Homo sapiens: one gene and its partners. The protein of the gene in region 6 purifies or fractionates together with the protein of the main gene of each other region. This does not show direct contact. Each region holds a gene or a part of one and is shown on either strand. Other genes may lie near its edges. The genes, in order: ERMP1, PPP1R15B, LAPTM4B, FBXO11, MFAP3, TNFRSF10A and CASP10.

What was found.
Region 1: the proteins of TNFRSF10A (region 6) and ERMP1 purify together in Homo sapiens (affinity purification with mass spectrometry; 2 studies listed by BioGRID and IntAct, with this or other methods). This does not show direct contact.
Region 2: the proteins of TNFRSF10A (region 6) and PPP1R15B purify together in Homo sapiens (affinity purification with mass spectrometry; 2 studies listed by BioGRID and IntAct, with this or other methods). This does not show direct contact.
Region 3: the proteins of TNFRSF10A (region 6) and LAPTM4B purify together in Homo sapiens (affinity purification with mass spectrometry; one large-scale study listed by BioGRID and IntAct). This does not show direct contact.
Region 4: the proteins of TNFRSF10A (region 6) and FBXO11 purify together in Homo sapiens (affinity purification with mass spectrometry; 2 studies listed by BioGRID and IntAct, with this or other methods). This does not show direct contact.
Region 5: the proteins of TNFRSF10A (region 6) and MFAP3 purify together in Homo sapiens (affinity purification with mass spectrometry; 2 studies listed by BioGRID and IntAct, with this or other methods). This does not show direct contact.
Region 7: the proteins of TNFRSF10A (region 6) and CASP10 purify together in Homo sapiens (affinity purification with western blotting; 2 studies listed by BioGRID and IntAct, with this or other methods). This does not show direct contact.

The regions. Positions count from the first base shown.
Region 1 is NC_000009.12:5,812,618-5,816,117, forward strand, and holds part of ERMP1 (endoplasmic reticulum metallopeptidase 1), read right to left. Parts: intron 419-3,500; coding exon 272-418; intron 1-271. UniProt on the Homo sapiens protein: Within the ovary, required for the organization of somatic cells and oocytes into discrete follicular structures.
Region 2 is NC_000001.11:204,402,881-204,405,849, forward strand, and holds the end of PPP1R15B (protein phosphatase 1 regulatory subunit 15B), read right to left. Parts: 3' UTR 501-2,969; downstream 1-500. UniProt on the Homo sapiens protein: Maintains low levels of EIF2S1 phosphorylation in unstressed cells by promoting its dephosphorylation by PP1.
Region 3 is NC_000008.11:97,848,788-97,851,150, forward strand, and holds part of LAPTM4B (lysosomal-associated transmembrane protein 4B), read left to right. Parts: intron 1-2,363. UniProt on the Homo sapiens protein: Required for optimal lysosomal function. Blocks EGF-stimulated EGFR intraluminal sorting and degradation.
Region 4 is NC_000002.12:47,899,999-47,903,498, reverse strand, and holds part of FBXO11 (F-box only protein 11), read left to right. Parts: intron 1-3,500. UniProt on the Homo sapiens protein: Substrate recognition component of a SCF (SKP1-CUL1-F-box protein) E3 ubiquitin-protein ligase complex which mediates the ubiquitination and subsequent proteasomal degradation of target proteins, such as DTL/CDT2, BCL6, SNAI1 and PRDM1/BLIMP1.
Region 5 is NC_000005.10:154,045,467-154,048,966, forward strand, and holds part of MFAP3 (microfibril-associated glycoprotein 3 isoform 1 precursor), read left to right. Parts: intron 1-3,500. UniProt on the Homo sapiens protein: Component of the elastin-associated microfibrils.
Region 6 is NC_000008.11:23,204,603-23,208,102, reverse strand, and holds part of TNFRSF10A (tumor necrosis factor receptor superfamily member 10A), read left to right. Parts: intron 1-686; exon of another isoform or gene 687-1,195; intron 1,196-3,500. UniProt on the Homo sapiens protein: Receptor for the cytotoxic ligand TNFSF10/TRAIL. The adapter molecule FADD recruits caspase-8 to the activated receptor.
Region 7 is NC_000002.12:201,207,141-201,210,640, forward strand, and holds part of CASP10 (caspase-10 isoform 1 preproprotein), read left to right. Parts: intron 1-934; coding exon 935-1,043; intron 1,044-1,149; exon of another isoform or gene 1,150-1,327; intron 1,328-1,929; coding exon 1,930-2,422; intron 2,423-3,500. UniProt on the Homo sapiens protein: Involved in the activation cascade of caspases responsible for apoptosis execution. Recruited to both Fas- and TNFR-1 receptors in a FADD dependent manner. May participate in the granzyme B apoptotic pathways.

The DNA of each region.
Region 1 (3,500 bases), on a different chromosome or scaffold from region 6:
AGGATCTATTACCATCTTTTGGGAATGAGGTGCTAAACAGTTCACCCCTGTTCTTCTATGGGGAAAGATGACATATTTTAGAGGAGGCCAGCATTTAAATTAGTATGGAGTTTAAAAAAGGAAACAAACTCTGTTTTAGTGAGTCAATGTATATTTCTCACATAAAGAATTTGATCTCAGAAAATGCTGTTTACTCACATACTTTCAAGATTTAAAATTTGCTTTTGATAAATAAATGCTGCACAGTAGGCCGTAACCATTGACAATATACCTGGAATGTTCCCAAAATCCCTGTAGATACGAAAGTCAGTATCTGAAGGAATGATTCCACTCTGAAAAACCTCCTGAGCCACCACAGAAGCAAAAGGGTGTTTAGCTGCTGAAACATAAGCTTGAACCAACCAAGGATTTTCAGGACCTAAAATGAAAGATGACAACACAATAGAAGGTATTCCGGCAATTTTTTTTAACATACTAATGTTTTTCAACACATAGAAAACAGTAAAAGTGGTGGTTTTGGGAGACGGGTCCAATATGTACCTTTTCATCCCTTTTTCTGTAGTTTCCAATGTTTCTCTGATATATGTGTTTGACTTTTAGAATAAAAACCTTTTGTGAAAATAAAGTATAAAATAACAGCAATACAAAAGTCTGTCTGAAAATGAAAGATCATTCATAAATCTATCATCCTAAAATGCCTATTATCAATTGTATATCTTTAATTTTCTTACTAATGTAGAATTGTGTGTATATAGCTGTACTCAAGATATATATACTTTGTACATTTGTTTTCACTTAACATTATATTAAATGCATTTTCCTATGTTGCTAGATACAAATTGGGTATACCTTATCTGAAATGCTTGGGATCAGAAGTATTTTGGATTTTTTACTTTTTCGGATTTTGGAATATCTGCATTATACTAGTAAGCATCCCTAATCCTAAAATCCAAAATCAGAAATGCTCCAATGAACATTTTTGAGCATCATGTCAGTGCTCAAAAAGTTGTGAATTGTGGAGCATTATGGATTTCAAATTTTCAGATTAGGGATGCTCAATCTGTATTATAATAATCATTTTGATAACTGCTTAACATTTCACTGAATATGCCATAAAGTTCCTTGTTACTTTTTATAATTTATCATTATTAATAATTTTCCATCTGTATCTCATACATCTACAGCTTTTTCAAATGGGAGTTTTTCCTGTAGGATAGTGGGATACATTGTTTTATAATTTATATAATTATATAATTATACGTATATTTATATAATTATAATTATATAATTATATGTATAATTGTATAATTATTCACTCTTCCCTCGCTGAAAAAGGATTATACATTCCTACTCTTGCCACATACCTTGTAATGCCTGCCTGGGGAATGAGTACATACTCTTCTGTACCTATTAACTGCAGGCGTGGCTACATGACTTGCTCTAGCCAACAGACTGTGAGGAGGAATGACATGACCCTCAACTGGGCAGAGTTTTCAAAGGCATTAACATCATTCATACTTATCCTTAACTTTGATTTGTGAGATCAATACATCCCTTATAGGGGCTTCTCCTTCAGCCTGGATCCCAGAATGAATAAGACACATGGAACATAATAACCGTGGACCATAACTGCAGTTATTCAGAAACCAAAATGCAACACGAGCAAGAAATAAGCCTTTGCTGTTGTAAACCACCAAGATTTTGGGGTTGTTACCACAAAACTTAGCAACATATTGACTGATGTAAACAGACCAAGTAACTGAATGTCAGGGAATCTAAGAATATTGTTTTTTTAACTTCACAGATTATAAAATTGCTTTCCTACATTTTAAAAAATGACCAAGGCTGGGTGCAGTGGCTCACGCATATAATCCCAGCACTTTAGGAGGCCGAGGTGGGCAGAGCACCTGAGGTCAGGCATTTAAGACCAGCCTGGCCAACATGGCAAAACCCCACCTCTACTAAAAATACAAAAATAAGCAGGGCATGGTAATCCCAGCTGCTCAGGAGGCTGAGGCAGGAGAATTGCTTAGACCTGTGAGGTGAAGGCTGCACTGAGCCAAGATTGTGCCACTGCACTCCAGCCTGGGTGACAGAGTGAGACTCCATCTGAAAAAATAAAAATTAAAAATTAAAAATGACCCAAAAAAGCAGAGGGACCCTATAGAAACAGACATACAAGTAATCCAGATACTGGAGTTACCAGACACAGATTCTAAAATAATTATGATTAATATGTTTTAAAAAACACAGATATCAGTAATTTCACCAGACAAGTATAATCTATTTAAAAGAGTCCTACAAATGGAAATCCTAGAATGAAAAAACATAACTGATGTTGCGAATTTTAATAAATGGGCTTAACACAAAGTTTAATACAGCAGAAGAAAGGATTAAAATTAAAGCATAAAAAGAAAAAAAGGTTGGAAAATACACAAATGTGAGTAATTGGAGTCCCAAAAGAACAGAAGATAGAATGGAGAAGATAAATGTTTAAAGACTTAATGGCCAAGAATCTTCCAAAACTCATAGAATTCAAGCCACGAATTCAAAAAGGTCTACAAACCCCAAACAAGATAAATATAAAGAAAAACTGTATCTGGCACCATTTACTTTTGAATACTATTCCCCACCAAAAGAAACCAAGCCTCCTTAGAGAAATGGCTGATTCCAGGTCTGGGACTAGCAAAGTACAAGGTAAGTTGAAACATCTGTGCCAGAAAGTAAGAAAGTGATCAAAAAGACATGTCAAAGGGGCTCAGGCACTGATTTGAAATAGACACCACTGGCCTAAACTGGGACAATTCATGCAACAAAATAAACAATAGTAACAGAATATATAGAGTAAAATTAAAATACATAAAGTACTGAAATAACAAAAAAAAAAAAAAAAAAAGGAAAATGGAAAGCCTTCCTTCTTGCAGAATTCCAACTATGACCTACAGGCAGAATGATGGAACCAGAAACTCAGCAGTAGCATTTGGTAAACATTGTAATAAAAATGCTTGGGGACAAGAGTCATCAATGATTGCTAAAACTAGGATCAAAGTTTTATGACAAACAGGATATTTACCTAAAGTATCTATCACTAAGGGGAAATCAGTAACTTGTACAAAGAAAGAAATAGTAGAAAAACCTGGCAAATAAATACCTTAATCAAACGATGAAAATGTAGTATCATTAATAATGAGACAAACAGATACCACATGCATCCTGATGTGATGCACTGAGGACACAAATACAAAAGGAAAAAGAACTATGATGATGGGGAAATACGTACATTACGAGATCTTATCATATTAAAATACTATTATTAAAATATTACTATTTGATATTAAGAAATTTATGCTAAAAAATACAATGAAAACCATACTGAAAAACAGGTAAAGCCAAACTATCATTAATTATCTTAAAACTTAGGATAATAGTTCCTCTTAGATGGGAGGGAGTTGTATTTGAGAAGAGAGGTTAAAAAAAATGCCTAGGCAGGCAAGGCAATC
Region 2 (2,969 bases), on a different chromosome or scaffold from region 6:
GGCCAACATGATGAAACCCCATCTCTACTAAAAATACAAAATTTAGCCGGGCATGGTGGCAGGTGCCTGTGATCCCAGCTACTCGGGAGGCTGAGGCAGGAGAATCGCTTGAAACCGGAAGGTGGAGGTTGCAGTGAGCTGAGATCGTGCCACTTCAATGCAGCCTGGGTGACAGAGGCTCCGTCTCAAAAAATAATAATAATAATAATGCACAAAACAGAGATTTCCCTGCTACTTAAGCACTAGGCTAAGCCCAGCATCTGAATGTTATTGCTTCTGTGAATACCCAGTTTAATTTTCTTTGCAGCAAAACTGAAAAGCTAGGGCCAATTTCAGAATCAAATCTTCAGTTTCTTAGAAGGGCCTCTCATAATACTGCAAGAACCAAGTTCTTCTATTACTAAAATGTTGTTTGCAATTATACTAATCCTGCTTAGTAATTCCAAAACCATTGTAAAATACTATGATACATATAATATAAAGTTGAACCAAAATATCACTTAACATTTAATAATTGCAAATATATTTATTACAATTTACAGATTAGTTATGTTATATACACAAATATAATTTTAACTATAAAATCCCAACTAGTTACATTTAAATTATTGATCTGTAGAAGCCAATTTAGAGTCTTCTAGTCCCCTAACTTTACCTTCCTTAAATTATACAAAAATAAAATCTGATAGTTTTGATTTCAAGTTAAAGATGAAGAAGTGTTACATTTCATCACTCAGAAATGGAACTTTTACCTGTCTGTACAAAGCCTTTTACATGCTACATTGACACTTAAAGCACCATTAACAAGACTTTAAATGTATAAAATGTTTAATTAAAACCTCCAAAGATTTTCTCTTTAAGATTACGGGGGTTTAACTTTGTTCTAACTAGAATTGGGATGAAACAAGAATTTTGCTTTTTTCTCCTTCAGTCCAACTTTAAAATAGTCCTTTCTGTCCTTCTTATCACCTTCTGATCACTTCTTCCAAGGAGGCTAGTATATGGAAGAACTCTTAATCAAGCTTTCACTCATTTGGTAGTGAGGTTAGAATCCCATGGGGAACAATTTTCCAAAATCCAATGAAAGATGTCTCATTATTTTCAAATACACAGAGGTGCTAGGTTTAAGAAACAGGAAACACAACGTTAAGTCTCGGAAATAAAATGTTTCAGCCTGGTTTTAAAAGAATGCCTGTATGTTGTCAAAAGGCTTTTTTCAAGGCAAATGACGCCTGCTTTCCAACCGACATTGCTGTTGCTTGAAACTAGCCTGTTTTCATGTTATTAGACCATCCTGTAAATGTGCTCCCTATGATTACCTAAAGTGGAGGTGCACAAAACACACAGAATCCCAGCACTTTGAGAGGCCGAGGCGGGCGGATCACGAGGTCAGCAGTTCAAGACCAGTCTGGCCAACATAGCGAAACCCCGTCTCTACTAAAAAGACACAAAAAATTAGCCGGGCGTGGTGGTGTGTGCCTGTAATCCCAGCTACTCGGGAGGCTGAGGCAGGAGAATCGCGTGAACCCAGGAGGCGGAGGTTGCAGTGAGCCGAGATCGCGCCACTGCACTCCAAGCTGGGGGACCGAACGAGACTCTGTCTCAAAAAAAAAAGAAAAAAACAAAAAACACACAGAATAAGGGCTCTGCAAAAATTTGACCAGCTTTTATAGTGTTGCATTCTCAATGTGTTTAATTATGAATATATAAACAGTGGAGGCAGTTCTTAGAACTGGATAGAAATAAAATAATGACCAGGTAGATTGTAAACTGAGGTAGTAACCCTGTAAGCACTTCTGATGAAAAATTCATCCCCACACTTAAATAAGTTCAAAACTAAGAGGTCACCTATTCTACTTATGTTTTCCATTACCTGTGACAGGAAGCACACGGAATGAAAGCAGACCACGGAAGGGTTAACAACCCCTCAACCTAACTTATGTGTACCTTGTAAAGCTAAACAAATAAACCAAACACAAACAGTCAATGCAAAGACTTCAATTCAAAGTAACCTTTGGGCTAAATATATTAAAACTTTCCAGTCATTAATCTATACTTCTATCCTTTCCTGAAAGTAAAGGCCTTGCCATTACTTCTCTCATTATTAAATAGTAGGACACAATAAACCTGGATATTGACTGAAGTTTATATTTTACATTTCAAACGTGAAAATTCAGAACTGCCCATTTCCAATTTTACAGTGGGATCCTGACAGGTTTTAAAAGTGACAGTGCTGAGGCATGATATTCATTAACACTGGTTTTCTGTTGAGAACATATACACCAAAACCAAATTGCTCTGAGATGTCTCCTATTTTCTTTCTAGGAAATTTCTAGGCTTTTAAGTTTAAAAAATAAATGATTATGATGTAATTATTACTTTCCAGAGTGTTTTGCAATAACTTCAACCTGTTAAGAGATACAAAGAACTATATTAAACTGGGAACTACAATAACGTACACAGAACCCTCTTCAAAGAAATTAAATATATTAGATGTTAAAATGTGGTAGAAAGATGCAGCTTTCCCAAAGTAGTAAAGTACTGCACATATGGGTTTTGTGGCAGTCCTTGGAAATATCCTAGGTAGAACTTAATGTAGAAATAAAAAGGCTACCACATATTTTCAATCCAAGTCATTTTTACAAGAAAAAAAAAAGTGACACAAAATAATGCACTTTAAGTTGGTAGCATACACAAGGTTATTTTTTAGCCTAACATAGACAGGCCAAATCATTGAAATAAAAAAAATATAGAAAAACATAAAAGCCCATTAACTTCTGAATTTTGGGAAAGAAACAAGAAAGAGCCCAAAGTTTTCAGATAGGCACACATAATTTAGATTAGAAATGAAAATGGGCTTTAAGCCCTATAAATATTGTTTTCCAAGAAAATAAGTTTTGAAAGTGCAAAATGACAACTCAAAAAGGTCCCCTTTCCACCTCATGCAGGCAAAGGACATTTAAAAGCAC
Region 3 (2,363 bases), about 75 Mb from region 6:
CTGGTGCGGTCACAGCTGTTTCCACTTGTTATAAGTTGCTGTATCTAATGCACACACACGTATGTGCGCTGGGGGCTCAGTCCTAAAGTCAAATATGCACACGCAGAGAAGACAGCTGTTGCTTTGTTTTAGAGAATACTTTTTTCTTCCCGCAGCTCAAGCTGACACTTTTGGAATTGCTAGTGGAGATGCTGTTGTTAGATACTGGCTAGAACTTGTCAAGGTCGACCATGAGGCTCTCTTCATGTGCTGACCTGTGCCTATCTTTCCAACTTCATCTCTGCAACATTCTCCCTTCAGTGTTCACTGTAGCAAACACCTTGCAGTTCCCAGAAAGTGCCCTGTGTCCTGCTTTCCTCTTAACTCCCTACTGGAATGTCATCCTCTTTACTGCACACCTGGTCATCCTACTGAGAGGCCTTCCTTGACTCCCTAGCCTAAATTGGTTGTCCTTGTCTGTTCTTTCCTAACTTGTCTGCATCCACACATTGCTCATGTTGAGTTTTACCTGTGTCTGCCTTCTGCTAGATTGCAGGCCCCTGAACAGACAGTGACATGTTTTCAGGTTCAAGTCGCTGTGACTGAGTTCCCTGGACACCTAGGTGCTCAGTGGGTGCTGGTTTGTTGGACTTAGTTTCCTGCTGTGCTTCCTTACCTCAGGCATGTGTTCTGTACTGAGTGTATCTTGCCTACTCCATTCCTTTTCCACGTGGGCAACGCTGAACATTTGCCCCAGACTCTGTATCTTGGTTAATACCTGACATATAAAGTATTTAGCACATAGGCAAAGATCACTACCTCTTTCAGGAACAAAGGCCGGCTGGCGGGTGCGACTCTGGCGCATTGCCTTTGCCTGTGTGTTGCTGGCCAGTTATCGGCTTCTTGCATCACAGCTCCAGAGTCCCATTTAGCTTGACATGGGCTGGGCCTTGCAGATACTCCTCCTTCACCTCCTGACCCTGTTCAGCCAGGCCAGTAGGGGGCACTGGAGGAGGAAAGCCGCCACCCCCCCTCCTCCACCCCCCTGCCCGCCTGCCCGCCCCCGGTTCCTGTGTGTTTCTGCAGTGTTCAGATCTTGCTGGCAGTGCTCCCCAGGGCCCAGTGCGAGCGGAGACAGCGGTGGCAGCGCCTCTCAGGCGGTTTCCAGAGCGGGCCGTGGCTCCCGGGAACGGCTTCCCGCAGGTGATTCTGTGCACACTGGCCTCTACCTGGTTCAGCGGGAAGCCTCTCCACTGTCCAATGGGCTTCAGCCACACCCTCCCTAGCCGTGTCTCAGCCCAGCCTTGGGGACCTCTGTTCTAGCTTGTTCCGTCCCTGAGTGCCGTACTTCAATCTTCTTATCCATTAGTGCTCTTTCCCCGCCATGAGTCAGTTCCCGGTTCCTCAGTCTCCTGTTAATAATTCTTCATGAAACTATATTCACATCACTGTGTGGCTTCTGTGTTCTGACTGGACCCTAGCCAGTACAGGTGCCCTCTGCCTAGGCAGCTGAAGGAACCATACAGGCTTTTCGGGGGCCGGCCTAAGTGGCACCTCCGTCACTCCGCAAACATCTGAGTTCCTGCTGTCGGATAGGCACTGGCCCACCCTCGAGGAAGTGAGACCTGGCTTCAGCCCCACAGGAGCTCCAAGACTGGGAGGAGAGAAGTAATGAAGTGTGTAGAGCTGGAGAGGAGGGGTGTGTGTGTGTGTGTGTGTGTGTTTGGGAGAGTGCAATGTGACAAAAACTTAACAAAATTTTAGTGTGGTTCTAGTAGGAGCTAAAGGGACAGATAAATGAAAATTAACAAAATTGATGAATACCACTTTAAGCATAAGTGATATCCCTGATAGAAAATCTAACCAAGTGTGGTTTTGTTTGTGAATAGTCTTTCCCTTTCCACAAATCACTTGAGGTGGGTGAGGTTTTGTTTTGTCTTCTCATCTCTGAACTCCTAAAGGGCAGGGACTGTCTTTTGTCTCAATTATCTTATACTCACAATGACTATTACATACTAGATGCATAATAAATGTTAGTTTACTGAATGAAGGGTGATATAACTATTCTGTATTCCATTTTCTACTCCAAGAAAGCCGAAATCAGCCAGTGTATAGACCGCCAACTCTGAGGTATCCTTATTTCATAGACATGGAAACTGATGTTAAGGAACTTACCCAAGGCTACGCTGATAAAATGTGACTGACCCAGGCTTTGAATCCAGGCTGATACCAAAAGCTTGGCGTTTTCACTGCACTTTGCAGTTCTCACCATGAGTGGTTACTGTAGTCAATCAAGTGCCTGCCCTATTTGTGTGTGCACATGGACACACTCACCTAGGGGTCTTTTTTCCTCTTCAGAGCCATCACCATTTCTTTTAGAGTCA
Region 4 (3,500 bases), on a different chromosome or scaffold from region 6:
GTGAGGTAAGGTGACTTGGTTGTTGGCAGTCACATGCCAGTGTCAATTTTCTTCTCATTGATGTCTATAAACTGTCAATATTCATGAATCCAAATTTCAGTATGTACCCAACCAAATGGTAAATGAAATTTACTGTAGAATTGTTGCTTCTCTGCAGCTAGTACAAACTGTTTTGGAGATTCTGTGTTGGCACAGAGCAGAGAGGAAAAGAACTTTAGGGAAAATAGTGTGAGTCTTAAAGAGGGCACATAAATGGCCTTAAAATGAATAAAACATTAAGATGAATTCGTTAACTAAAATAATAAAGATGTTGCCAGCCATATGGAAAAATATGTTATTCTTTGAAAAATTGACATTTTAATTACGTTTTTTTAAATGTCCGATTCATATAATGATCAGAAGTTAACTAAGAATACTCTATTTCGAAAGTTTTATGGAGCACGCAAAGTGTCACTTTCTAGTTTGGAAAGAAAGGGATTTTGTTGTTGCTAGTTTAGGAATATGCTGGGTTTAATTATTACAGGATAATTAAAGAACTAAAGCTAAGAATGTATGTGTGGTTTTTGTTTTTTTTTTTTTAACCTTTTACTAACTCTTAATGGATATGTAACATTTGCATTAGGATCTTGGATAGAGTTACTTAATAGTGGATCAGACAACTTTCCAGATAGGGAATCAAAGTGAGACTCGCTGTTTTGAGACAAACTAGTTCAGACTGTATATAAAATCATTTGTTTTATATAAAGATGCATTTCAGGTTCTTTAGTGGTAATAAAATAGTTACAGTATAATATGTTTTCAGGCAAAAAGTCTGTCAGAATGGTCTTTAGCTGCTTCATTGCCCACAGGTTAATTGGTATAAAAACTTCCTTGACACCACTTTTAAATATATTTACATACACACGTGTGTATGTGTATGTGTGTGTGTATGTGGGTATATTTGTGTATATACATGTTTGTACATACATTATGTGTGTGTGTATATACGCTTTGTCTTATCTGTAATGGCCAGTGTTTGAAGAAGAAAGAAACTAGACCCTATAGATTAAAATCTTTGAGGATTTTTCAAAGCTTTCCATGGGGGAGCATTTCTTACACCCCACGTAAGGAAATATTGGTCTGGGTATTTCATGGACTATTGTGTTCACTCGTTAGCTGAAATGATCAGCTATCCTAAGACTAAATACTAGCCTAATCATTAGCTTTTTTAATTTCTTAAATTCCTGAGATTGGGATTTCATGTACTAGTAGAATTGTATTTTACAGGCCCAGAGCAATGGCTCACGCCTGTAATCCCAGCACTTTGGGAGGTCGAGGCAGGTGGACCACGAGGTCAGGAGTTCAAGACCAGCCTGGCCAACGTAGTGAAACCTCGTCTTAACTAGAAATACAAAAATGAGCCAGGCATGGCGGCTCACGCCTGTAATCCCAGCTACTCTGGAGGCTGAGGCAGGAGAATCGCTTGAACGCGGGAGGCTGAGGTTGTAGTGAGCTGAGATCACACCATTGCACTCCAGCCCAGGTGACACAGTGCAAGACTCGGTCTCAAAAATAAAAACTGTATTTTACGCAGTGACAATTCGGTAATATAGTCCATGATTTAATGAAACAGTAGTGTGGGATTGGATTTTTGATATTTGTTTTGTTTTAAAATTCTAGAAGGAGTTAGCTTTTGCAGCCCGTTCTGATGAATTTATTGTCTTTACTGCAGGAATGTATTTTGTAATTTTTTTAGATATTACAAAGTATGAGGAAAGCTTACAAGTCTACAGAAGTGCTGTGTGTTCTCATCAGTAGATTTTAGTTGTTAAAATTAATTACTTTGAACTGAGATTGCACCACTGCACTCCAGCCTGGGTGACAGAATGAGACTCCATCTCAAAAAATAAATAATAAATAAAATAAAATTAATTACTTTGAATAGGTAATATTGCCACAGTTTAAAATTCAGAAGTCCCCTTCGTACATCAGCCTCCAGCTACTAAATTCTTCTACCTGGAATCTAATAACTGTTATTAGTTTCTCATTTATTACCTTTTAATAAAAGATGAATTTGGGTTCTGGAAATAATCTTGACATGGGAGTTTTTGAAAATAGATGTATTTTTTTTCTAGTTATTGGAAAAGTCACAGGACTGTTTTGAAGTGCTGAAAATCTAATTGTGATATTTATAGTTCAAGAAATTTAATGAATGCATTAATAGATTTTGCTATTCATTTCTACTCTGAGCTAATCTTGTAGAATAAAAACCTAGTCTCTCTAATCCCATATTTGTGGGATAAAAATCTTATCTATGACACACATATATATGTACCCACATATATATACATATATATGTATATATGTACACACGTGTGTATATATATACATGTACACACGTGTGTACATATATACATATATATGTATATATATGTACACACGTGTGTATATATATACATATATATGTGTATATATGTACACACGTGTGTATATATATACATAAATATATATATCTCCCCACCGGCAATATTTTATGTAATATTATACGTACTGAATGATTTCAATTTTTAAAAACCCTGCAATTCCATAAATACGTGTATATATATACATATATATGTGTGTATATATACGTGTATATATATACACGTGTGTGTGTATACGTGTATATATATACACGTGTGTGTATACGTGTATATATATACACGTGTGTGTATACGTGTATATATATACACGTGTGTGTATACGTGTATATATATACACGTGTGTGTATACGTGTATATATATACACGTGTGTGTATACGTGTATATATATACACGTGTGTGTATACGTGTGTGTATACGTGTGTATATACGTACGTGTGTGTATACGTGTGTATATACGTACGTGTGTGTATACGTGTGTATATACGTGTGTATACGTGTGTATATACGTATATATGTGTGTATACGTGTGTATATATACGTGTATATACTTTTTTCTCGACACTGTACTGATGAGGAATGAGCTGTATATTTATAATATGCAGCAGCCAGGAGACACTCCTTGCTGTTCTAGTCAGGAATGCTAGTTATACTTTCTGTGGCATTGTTCTAGCATGTGATATTTTAACTTCATGGATCCTGTGCAGTCTTAATAGAGGAGTTCTGCACAAGAAACATGATTTTTCCTGTTTTAGGAAGTAAGTACTGTGGGGTACTACTCTGTCATCTGGTGGCTAACCCTTCCAAATGTATCCCATGAGAGGAGACAGTGCCACTCAACCTTTTGGAGGCAGGAAGTATGGGAGCTGTAAAAAGAGCCTATTTTCTTAAAGCTTGGAACTTACTTGAGGGATAGAAACAGAGTAGTGTTGCTATTAGTGTTAAAGTTGTGCTGATGAGGCCTAAGAGCTCTGCTGATAAGGCCTAAGAGCTCTTATCCTGCTTTTCTCCCTTTACTGGAAATTCTGACAAACCCAAGAGAAGGCCAACCAGCTTGGAGACCTACTAGGTAAGGCAGGAACCACAAGTAGTTCCTGATC
Region 5 (3,500 bases), on a different chromosome or scaffold from region 6:
TCCCCCCAACCCCCAAGATTTTTAAATGGTTGCATGGTATTCTGAGTGTTTTATAATGATGTAACTATCAAATGTAAATTTTAGTTCAATATCTGAAAGAACCATGAACAATAATAATAGAGCTTATTCAGTGATTACCATTGCCAGACTCTGTGTTTTATGTATACTACCTCATTCAGACTTTGCAATAATCCTGTGAGAATAGATTCTGTTATTTTGCCCATTTTAAAGATGAGGGGCTGAGGCAGGGAGATTAAGTCATTTATAAAAGTTGCAAGGCTGGTTAGAGTCACAGATCGTATTTGAATCCTATACTCTGAACCTCTCTGCTACCCTGCTCTTATTAGAGACCTTCAATTTTGCTGATCTAGAGTAATCTAAATCTAGAATGGAATGTGAGTGATTATATCTCTCATTGGAAATATTCAAATAGCCTGAAGCACCATTCTGCAGGTCAGTTGCAGAGGAAATTGAGGAACTGTATTAGTGGCCCTTAGATGCAGTACATGAATCCAATGCCTCAGAAACACCCAGGGAGCCAATTAAAAGTCATAAATTCCAAGGCGCAAACACAGAGTTTCTTACTCGTTCTGGGTTGGGACCTGGGAATCCATATTTTTAAAAAGCTCTCCTGACAGTTGTGATATTCAACCTGGTTTGGAAACTGCACTTGGTGATCTTTTATTCCTACCATTATCCTCTAGGACAACATGGTAAATGAAGGTATCAGGTTGGGAGTCGGAAGAATGCATTTAATTAGGTACTTTTAAGGTCTTCCAAGATTGTTAGCATTGACTGTTTTTGTTTCAGAGAATTTATAATAGGCAACTGTATGTCAGTTTGAACAATTATAATCCCTGTTGCATAACATTATTCAATTTATAAAGATCTGTCACATACTGAATCAAATTTAAACTAATCTCCATCAATATTTATTGAGCATGTGCTAGTTATGACGTACAGCAATAAAAAATATAGGCCTTGTTCTTAAGGGGTAGTTGAGATGGGATAGACTGCCTAGCAGTACAGAGCAGCATATACCAGCGCCAGATGAGTACGGTAGGTGGGGAGGGCTCTGGGGTGAAGGAGAAGCCATCCTTTATACAGCTATACTCTGAATTTATGTAGGAGGAATAGCTAAGGCCTTGATAGGAGGTTCAGGAAGTTTGCGGGAAGGCAGAATTCCATGTGGGAGTTATGCTTTGCCAAGCCTTGTGTTGGTGAGGACACTCATTGCCCTGCAGCCCTCGCCTGTGACAGCTGTTCATTCTGCTGAAGTTCCTGAATCTCAGAGCAGGAAGACCGAATCCATTTCCTTTCTTTCCAGTTTCTTCTACACTAGCTACTTTGATCCTGGGGGGATGTGACCATACCCCCAGGTGATCTGCCCACGTTTGAGCCTCTCAGTTGTTTGACGTCTTCATCATGGACGAATATCTCCCTCACTCACTTCAGCCACTGCAGCTTCCGGAGTCTATCTCCAGTTTCACCATTGGCCCAGTTAGTTCTCCTCCAGAATCAGGAATCAGACGCAGCATTTTTGGCCACTGCCTGTCTTTACCACAATTTTTTAGCTGTTTTTTGTGAACAACTCCTGACCAGTGACCCCTCTCATTTTTCCCTGTCTCCTGGCCCTCTACCTTGAGTGCTTTCCTCCCAATTTTTATTCCTCTTTATTCTTCAGGTCCTGCACCTGAAGAATAGGTGCTGCACACCTCTTTTTCTCAGAGGCTTTCCATGATGAGATTAACTCCCCATGTTGGGTCCTCCTGTAGCATCTGTATTTTCCCTTGGGTAACATTGAGTTTATTTTGTATATATGTAGTTAGTGTCCATCATCTGCCAGACTGAACTTCGTGGAGGCCGAGACAATGTCTATGGGGCAGTAGGTAGGCACATGGTAGGTGCTCAATAGATACTGTTCAGTATATGAAAATGTATCCCTCCGATCTCAAACTCAGTGGTGGGGAAGAGTAGAAAGGAAGGAGATGGCAGGTTAAGAAATGAGGTGGCATTAAAATAAACTGGAGTTGTGGGGGGCTTTTTGTTTTGGTTTTGGTTTTACTACAGAGAGAGCAAGCCTCCAGCTCAAAGCCTTTCAGCAGGCAGTAGTATCTCTGGAAGCTAATAACACTTCTTTGTTTTCATTATGTTTATGTGTACGGTTACATTTGTCCACAGAACTGATGTAGAGTTTCCTTTTTAAATAAATGTGAAAGTAAAAATAAAATGAGTTGATTTAAAAGAAAAGCAGAAATGACGATAATTTGGTTCATGGATATAGTAAAAACAACAACAACAAAAAAGACAGGAGAAGGAATGAATGAAGTTTGGGAAGTGCTGCCCTGGATGAAGCTATAGGAACTCCTAATCAAAGTTCTGGAGAAAGCCTGGAGCATTTTTTCAGCACACTCATAGCCTGTCACCGTTGAGAACCACTAATCTAGAATAAAGTACAAAATTATGTCCTCCAATTGCTGTATATCTTGCAGTGAAAAAGAGCTTGGAAACTTACATGTCAAGCCCCTAGCACAGTGCTTGGCTGATGGCAGTCATTCAATAAATGTTATTTCCATTGTTTCTACCCATCACCCCCTCTTAAAAAAGAGACTGTATTCCAAACTAGATTCTCCTACTAACTTGTAGCATGTCGTAAGAAGCAAATCACTGTGCACTGAATCAATTAGATTATATTACTTCCAAAATCCCCTCTCTGCCTAAGTCTTTGTTTCCTTTAGTGTCCTTTTTGTGCGGTTTTAGGAGGAAATGGAAATAAACACGTTTAGTGTGTCATGTATTGCCAAAGTCTGAAGGTTTTTTATTTTACTCTGTATACCCCATCCTTAAATTGTAAAGATTTAGAAAAGTATTTGTCACCATTCAACCATCCTTTCAAGGGTTAATTAATGAAAATTAAATGACATTTGCACCGTATTGTAATTTAGACTTTGAGATATTTAATGGCAAAATACAGTGATTCATTGTTTTTTATGTTCTGTGATCAAGCAGCCTTCATATAAATATAAAGGAGAGTAAATGTCATTTCCAAAACTAATTATCTTGGTGCTTTATAAGACATAAAGCTAGGCATTTCATCCCATATTTTATAGAAATAAAAGTTGAATTTTTTCTTTGAGAGTTGGTGGCTTAAAGGGGGAGTCAAATTACCAGGAAGGTGATCATAAATACATAGACTTTTGGACTAGGATGTTATTTTGCCTTTTATTCAAGATATTTTGCTCTTCTTTTAAATGTGTCTAACAATCTGTCCCTGTAGTTTTATATTTGCATTTCTACTAACTAGACACTTAAGATGTCAGTTCCTCCCTTAGCTAGTTTACAGAGTTTGAGCTAGAAATTTGGTATGCTTACAAACTATTAAATACACTGTACTTTGTCTCTTCGTATTGGAGAAACTATTAAAAGAAAATTCTGTTGTCTAATGTTCTTGCCCATGAAGGAGGTTCCATAGCTTTAGAAGTCAATAACTCTATTTATGT
Region 6 (3,500 bases):
CTTTTGGTCAAAGCCATTCAACAAGTCTCTAGGAAGTTCCACACTTTCCCACATTTTCCTATCTTCGTCTGAGCCCTCCAAACTGTTCCAACCTCTGCCTGTTATGCAGTTCCAAAGTTGCTTCCATATTTTCAGGTATCTTTTCAGCAGCTCCCCACTCTACTGGTACCAATTTACTGTATTAGTTTTTTTTTTTTTTTTTCGTGCTGCTGATGAAGACATTCCCAAGACTGGGCAATTTACAAAGAAAGAGGTTTAATTGAACTTACAGTTCTACGTGGCTGGGGAAGTCTTACAATAATGATGGAAGGCAAGGAGGAGCAAGTCATGTCTTACATGGATGGCAGCAAGCAAAGAGAGCTTGTGCAGGAAAACTCCCCCTTATAATAACCATCAGATCTTATGAGACTTACTCATTATCATGAGAACTGCAAGGGAAAGACCTGCCCCACATGATTCAATTACCTCCCATTGGATCCCTCCCACAACTTACGGGAATTCAAGATGAGATTTGTGTGGGGACACAGCCAAATCATATCAGTAATATTGTCCTTATACAATGAATTGGAAAGTGCTCCTTCCTCTGCTGTCTTTAAAAAGGGTTTCTGAATAATTGGTATTAATTCTTCTTGAAATGGTTGGTATCATTCAGTGGTAAAGGCATCTGGGCCTCAACTTTGTTTTTCTGGTGAAAACATATACATGTATTTAGAATTAGCCAGCTGGATTCAGTTTAGATGATCCCAATTTTGTTGGCAACATCCAAGACATGGTAATCAGGAGCCAGTCGAACATATGCCTTCTTCTCTCCATCAGGCCTAATCAGGGTGTTGAACCTTGGCCACATAAACATCATAGAGCTTCTTCACAACCTGTTTGATCTGGTGCTTGTTGGTTTTAACATCTACAATGAACACAAGTGTGTTGTTGTCGTCTTCTATCTTCTTCATGGCATACTCAGTGGTCAGTGGAAGCTTGATGATAGCATAGTGGTCAAGCTTGTTTCTCCTGGGGGTGCTCTCCAGAGTCTCAGTATCTTGGGCCACCGGAAGGTGGGTGATGTATGGATATTCTTTTTTTCATGGCAGTGGACACCTTTCTACACTGCCTTCTTGGCCTTCAAAACCTTTGCATCGCTTCAGCTTTAGGAGGGGCAGGAGCTTCCTTCTTTGCTTTCAGTGCCATCTTGTGAAAACGACTTTTCTTTAGGAGTAGTTTTGATAACTAAGTCAAAATCTTTACTTGCTATATGTCTATTCACATTGTCTCTTTCATCTTGATTCAGTTTCAGTAGTTTGTGTCTTTCTAGGAATTTGCCCCTTTCATCCAAGGTACCTAATTTTTTGTTGTACAGGTTTCATAGTATTCTTTTATAATTTTTTTATTTCTATATAATCTGTAGTAATGTGCTCTCTCTCATTTCTGATTCTAATACAGTCATGCCTCAGTTAATGATGGGAACTCATTCTGACAAGTGCATCATTGTGCAAACATCATAGAGTGTACCTCCACAAACCTAGATGATATAGCCTACTGCATCCCTAGGCTATGTGATATAGCCTATTGCTCTTAGATTACAAACCTGTACTAGTAGACAATTGTAACACAATGATAAGTATTTGAGTTCCTAAACATGTGAACATAGAAAAGGCCCAATAAAAATATGGTATAAAAGGTTAAAAAAGATGATGTAGTTGTCTAGGGCACTTACCATGAATGGAGCTTGCAGGACTGGATCTTGTCTGGGTGAGTCAGTGAGTGGTGAGTGAATGTGAAGGCCTGGGACATTCCTGTACACTACTATGGACTTTATAAACACTGTACATTTAGGCTACACCAAATCTGTAAATTTTTTTTTCCTTCCTTCAATATTAACTTCGTGTAACTATTTTACTTTATAAACTTTTTAATTTTTAAAACTTTTTCACTCGTTTTAACACTTAGCTTAAAAAACAAAAACTGTACAGCTGTACAAAAAATGTTCTTTCTTTATATTCGTATTCTATAAACATTTTTGTATTTTTAACTTAAACTTTTTTTTACTTAAAAATTTTTTTGTTAAAAACTAAGATAGAAACACAGACATTGGCCGGGCGCAGTGGCTCACACCTGTAATCCCAGCACTTTGGGAGGCCAAGGCAGGCGGATCACGAGGTCAGGAGATCGAGACCATCCTGGCTAACACAGTGAAACCCTGTCTCTACTAAAAATACAAAAAATTAGCTGGGCATGGTGGCAGGCACCTGTAGTCCCAGCTACTCGGGAGGCTGAGGCTGAGGCAGGATAATCGCTTGAACCTGAGAGGCAGAGGTTGTAGTGAGCTGAGATTGCGCCACTGCACTCCAGCCTGGGTGACGGAGTGTGACTCCTTCTCAAAAAAAAAAAAAAAAAGAAACACAGACATTAACCTAGGTCTACACAAGGACAGGTTCATCAACATCACTGTCTTTCACCTCCACATCTTGTCGCGTTGGAGGATCTTCAGGGGCAGACACACATGGAGCTGTCAACTCCTATGTCCTCTGATAACAATGCCTTCTTCTGGAAAACTGCATGAGGCTGTTTTATAGTTACCTTTTTTATTTGTAAGTAGGAGTACACTCTAAAATAACATTACAATGTATAGTATCAAAAATACATAAATCAGTAAGTCATTTATTATCATTATCAAATATTATATATAGAACTTCATTATATGTGCTATACTTTTAACTGGCAGTGAAGTAGGTTTGTTTACATCAGCATTACCACAAACACCTGAGTAACGCATTGACTTATGACATTACTAAGCGATAGGAATTTTCCTCCTCCATTATAATATTATGGGACCACCGTCACATATGTGGTTCATTGTTGACCGAAACGTCATCATGCAGTGCGTGACTATAATTTGAGTCTTATTTTTTCCCTGTGCTAATTTTTTAACACAATTAGTTGTGCCAATATATCGATCTATTTAAAGAACTAGATTTTGAGTTCATTAATTTACTCTGTTGTTTTTCTGTTCTCCGTCTCATTAATTTCTGCTCTAATCTGTATTATTTTCTTCCTTCTGCTTGCTTTATCTATAGTTTGCTCTTCTTTTTCGAGTGTCTTAGAGTGGATTATTAGGTTATAGATTGAGATATTTCTTCTTCCTTAATAGACATTTAGGAAGGATATTTCTTCTTCCTTAATAGACAATTTCTCTGTAAACTTCAGCTACGTTAGCTGTATCCCATAGGTTTTGGTATGTTGTGTCTTCATTTTCATTCGTCTTATTTTCTGATTTCTCTTTTGATTTCTTTTTAGACCAGTTGGTTATTTAGGAGTGTGCTATTTAATTTTTATATAGCTGTGATGTTCCCCAGTTTCTTCCTGCTATTGATTTCTAATTTTATTCCATTGTGGTAGGAGAGTGTATTTTGTATTATCTCTATCCTTTTAAGTGTATTGAGGTTTATCTTATGGCCAAGCATATGGTTTATTTTGGAGAATGTTCTATGTGCACTTTAAAAGAA
Region 7 (3,500 bases), on a different chromosome or scaffold from region 6:
AGTGCAAATGAGATTTATCCTTTGTCCTGGGCTCTAGGACTTAAAAAAGAATCTTTGAAATTTTATTCAGATCACAATTGTGCAGTAAAAGTGAGTTGCAGAGTAGTCAGAATCCCCAGTTTTTCAATATGTGACTTCAGAAATAATGTGGCATAAATACCCCAAGGGGTTTAGACTAGAGTATAAAAACATGGTTTTGGACAGGCATGGTGGCTCATGCCTGTAATCCTAGCACTTTGGGAGGCTGAGGTGGGCGAATCACTTGAGGTCAGGAGTTCAAGACCAGCCTGGCCAACATGGTGAAACTCTACCTCAACCAAAAATACAAAAATTATCGGCTGGGCGCGGTGGCTCATGCCTGTAATCCCAGCACTTTGGGAGGACGAGGTGGGCGGATCACAAGGTCAAGAGATCAAGACCATCCTGGCCAACATAGTGAAACCCCGTCTCTACTAAAAATACAAAAATTACCTGGGCATGGTGGCGGGCGCCTGTAGTCCCAGCTACTCGGGAGGCTGAGGCAGAAGACTCGCTTGAACCCAGGAGGTGGAGGTTGCAGTGAGCTGAGATCACGCCATTGCACTCCAGCCTGGGTGACAGAGCGAGATGCTGTCTCAAAAAAAAAAAAAAATTATCTGGGGGTGTTGGTGGGCACCTGAGGCAGGTGGATCCCTTGAATCCGGGAGGCAGAGGTTGCAGTGAGCCGAGATCGCGTCACTCACTCCAGCCTGGGCAACAAGAGTGAGACTCCATCTCAAAACAACAACAACAGCAACAACAAAATAACAACAACAACAAAAACATGGTTTAAACAACTGGCATGGGGAGATACATCCTGCTCTTCCTCACAGTGGATCCATTGGAGTGGTTGGTTAGAAACATTTAAGGCCCTAAGATAAGGATTCCTACTAAGTGGCTCTATCTATTCTTCAAGAGGGCAGCTGTGTACAGGATGAATCGGAACCACAGAGGCCTCTGTGTCATTGTCAACAACCACAGCTTTACCTCCCTGAAGGACAGACAAGGAACCCATAAAGATGCTGGTAAGAAAGTCTGGAACAGTTTATCAAATGCAAATTGGGGATCTTAAAATTATTTTTTATTTTCACATTTTCTTTCTGTGACTTTTATCTTCCATATACGTGTAAGGATGATATCATGTTTCTGAGCCTCTTATATATCCCTGGGGAGTCATCAGTCTGCTAAAGAGTGGCAAGAATCTTTGACTATTCACAATTCTGAATAGAGGAGAGCATGTACTGGGGGAGAGCCTGCTGGATTGGCACGAGACAACTTGGGCGTGAGCTCCAGCTCCACCACTAACTAGGTGTGTGATCATGGGAGAGTCAAGAGACCTTGGCTTCTTCAACTGTGAAACAGGATGAAACACTGGCCACTGCCGATTCTCAGGACTGTTGTGACAACACTGGGTATTACGTGATAGGAGATTCATTGTAAGATTTTATGGTTATGAAAATAAAAATAATCCAAAGCTTTAGGCTATTTGCTGTGCAAATTTTGTAACTATTAGCATTGTTTCAGTTTTTTTTTTCTTTGAGACAGAGTCTTGCTCTGTTGCCCAGGCTGGAGTGCAGTGGTGCAGTCCCAGCTCACTGCAACCTCTGCCTCCCAGGCTCAAGCCATTCTCGTGCCTCAGCCTCCCGAGTAGCAGGGATTACAGGCGTGAGCCACCACACCTGGCTATTTTTTGTATTTTCAGTAGAGATGGGGTTTTGCCATCTGGCCAGACTGTTCTCAAACTCCTGACCTCAAGTGATCCGCCTGCTTCGGCCTTCCAAAGTGCTGAGATTATAGGTGTGAGCCACTGTGCCCGGCCTTGTTTCAGTTCTTCATTTTGTTTTGCATCATTTTATTATTTCCCCTTTCTCTCTCTCTCTCTCTTTTTTTTTTTTTTTTGTTTTTAAACAGAGATCCTGAGTCATGTGTTCCAGTGGCTTGGGTTCACAGTGCATATACACAATAATGTGACGAAAGTGGAAATGGAGATGGTCCTGCAGAAGCAGAAGTGCAATCCAGCCCATGCCGACGGGGACTGCTTCGTGTTCTGTATTCTGACCCATGGGAGATTTGGAGCTGTCTACTCTTCGGATGAGGCCCTCATTCCCATTCGGGAGATCATGTCTCACTTCACAGCCCTGCAGTGCCCTAGACTGGCTGAAAAACCTAAACTCTTTTTCATCCAGGCCTGCCAAGGTGAAGAGATACAGCCTTCCGTATCCATCGAAGCAGATGCTCTGAACCCTGAGCAGGCACCCACTTCCCTGCAGGACAGTATTCCTGCCGAGGCTGACTTCCTACTTGGTCTGGCCACTGTCCCAGGCTATGTATCCTTTCGGCATGTGGAGGAAGGCAGCTGGTATATTCAGTCTCTGTGTAATCATCTGAAGAAATTGGTCCCAAGGTGAGAGCTCTTTTTTTTCTTCCATTTGTAATTAATTAGTTTTATTTATTTTTTATTTTACTCTCATTCAACACCTTTGGTAAGGGTGAGAGTTCTACGTTGTTCTATCCATGTACCTGTTCAACCATCTGCCTACCCTCCTGTTTATCTATTTATCCATCTATCCACCCATTCATCTATCCATCCATCTATCCACCCATTCATCTATCCATCCATCCATCTGTCCATCCATCCATCCATCCAGCAACCTTGTATTGAGTACCAGCCTGGACCTGGAAAGGAAGATACAGAGTTAAAAAAAGACAGAGTCCTTGCCCTCAGGTTGCTTACAAGCTAGAGGGATAGACAAACAAATAGACGGGGAAGGGCATCCCCAGCTGGTAAGTGCACATTGTGAAGTATAGGTGTTATGGGAACATGCAGAATGAGTACCTTGCCCAGATTTGAAGGATCAGAGGAGGCTTCTAGAAATGACAAATAGATGTTAGGTAAAGAATCAGGTGAAAGATGTGCTGGGCAGAGGGAATAGCATGAACAAAAGCATGGGGGCCTTTTATTTGTTCGTTTATTTATCACTCACTCTTACGTCCTGAGCACCTATGTGCTATCTTTGGACTTCTATTTGCCACTGCTCTGACAGCTTCCCTTCTGTCTCTGCCACATGCTGTCCTCTTGGCACCTTTAGCCATACCTAGAGGCCATGGGCTCCTCCATGAAAACGTCTCCAAAGTTGCCATCTCTGGCCCACTCATCTCTGAATTCCTGGGGGCAGAGACCCTGTTTCATTCAACTTTATATCCTCAGCCCCTGACCTGATATATTGTGAGCTTGTTAAACATTTGCTGGGCCAATGAATGACTTGCTTGAGCCTGTCTCATTAACATCCCGCTAGATATCCTACCTCTGTTTAGCCCTTGGACCTCACATTCAGCATGCATGTTTCTGAGCTCATCTTCCCAGCTCTCTCCAGGAGCTCCTACTCCTGAATTTCCATTTGAAGGAATGGCCATAGTGCTCTTCTGGGAATTCAGGATTGGAACCTTGAGTCAACTTTGCTTTTCTCTCTTCTTTACCAGCC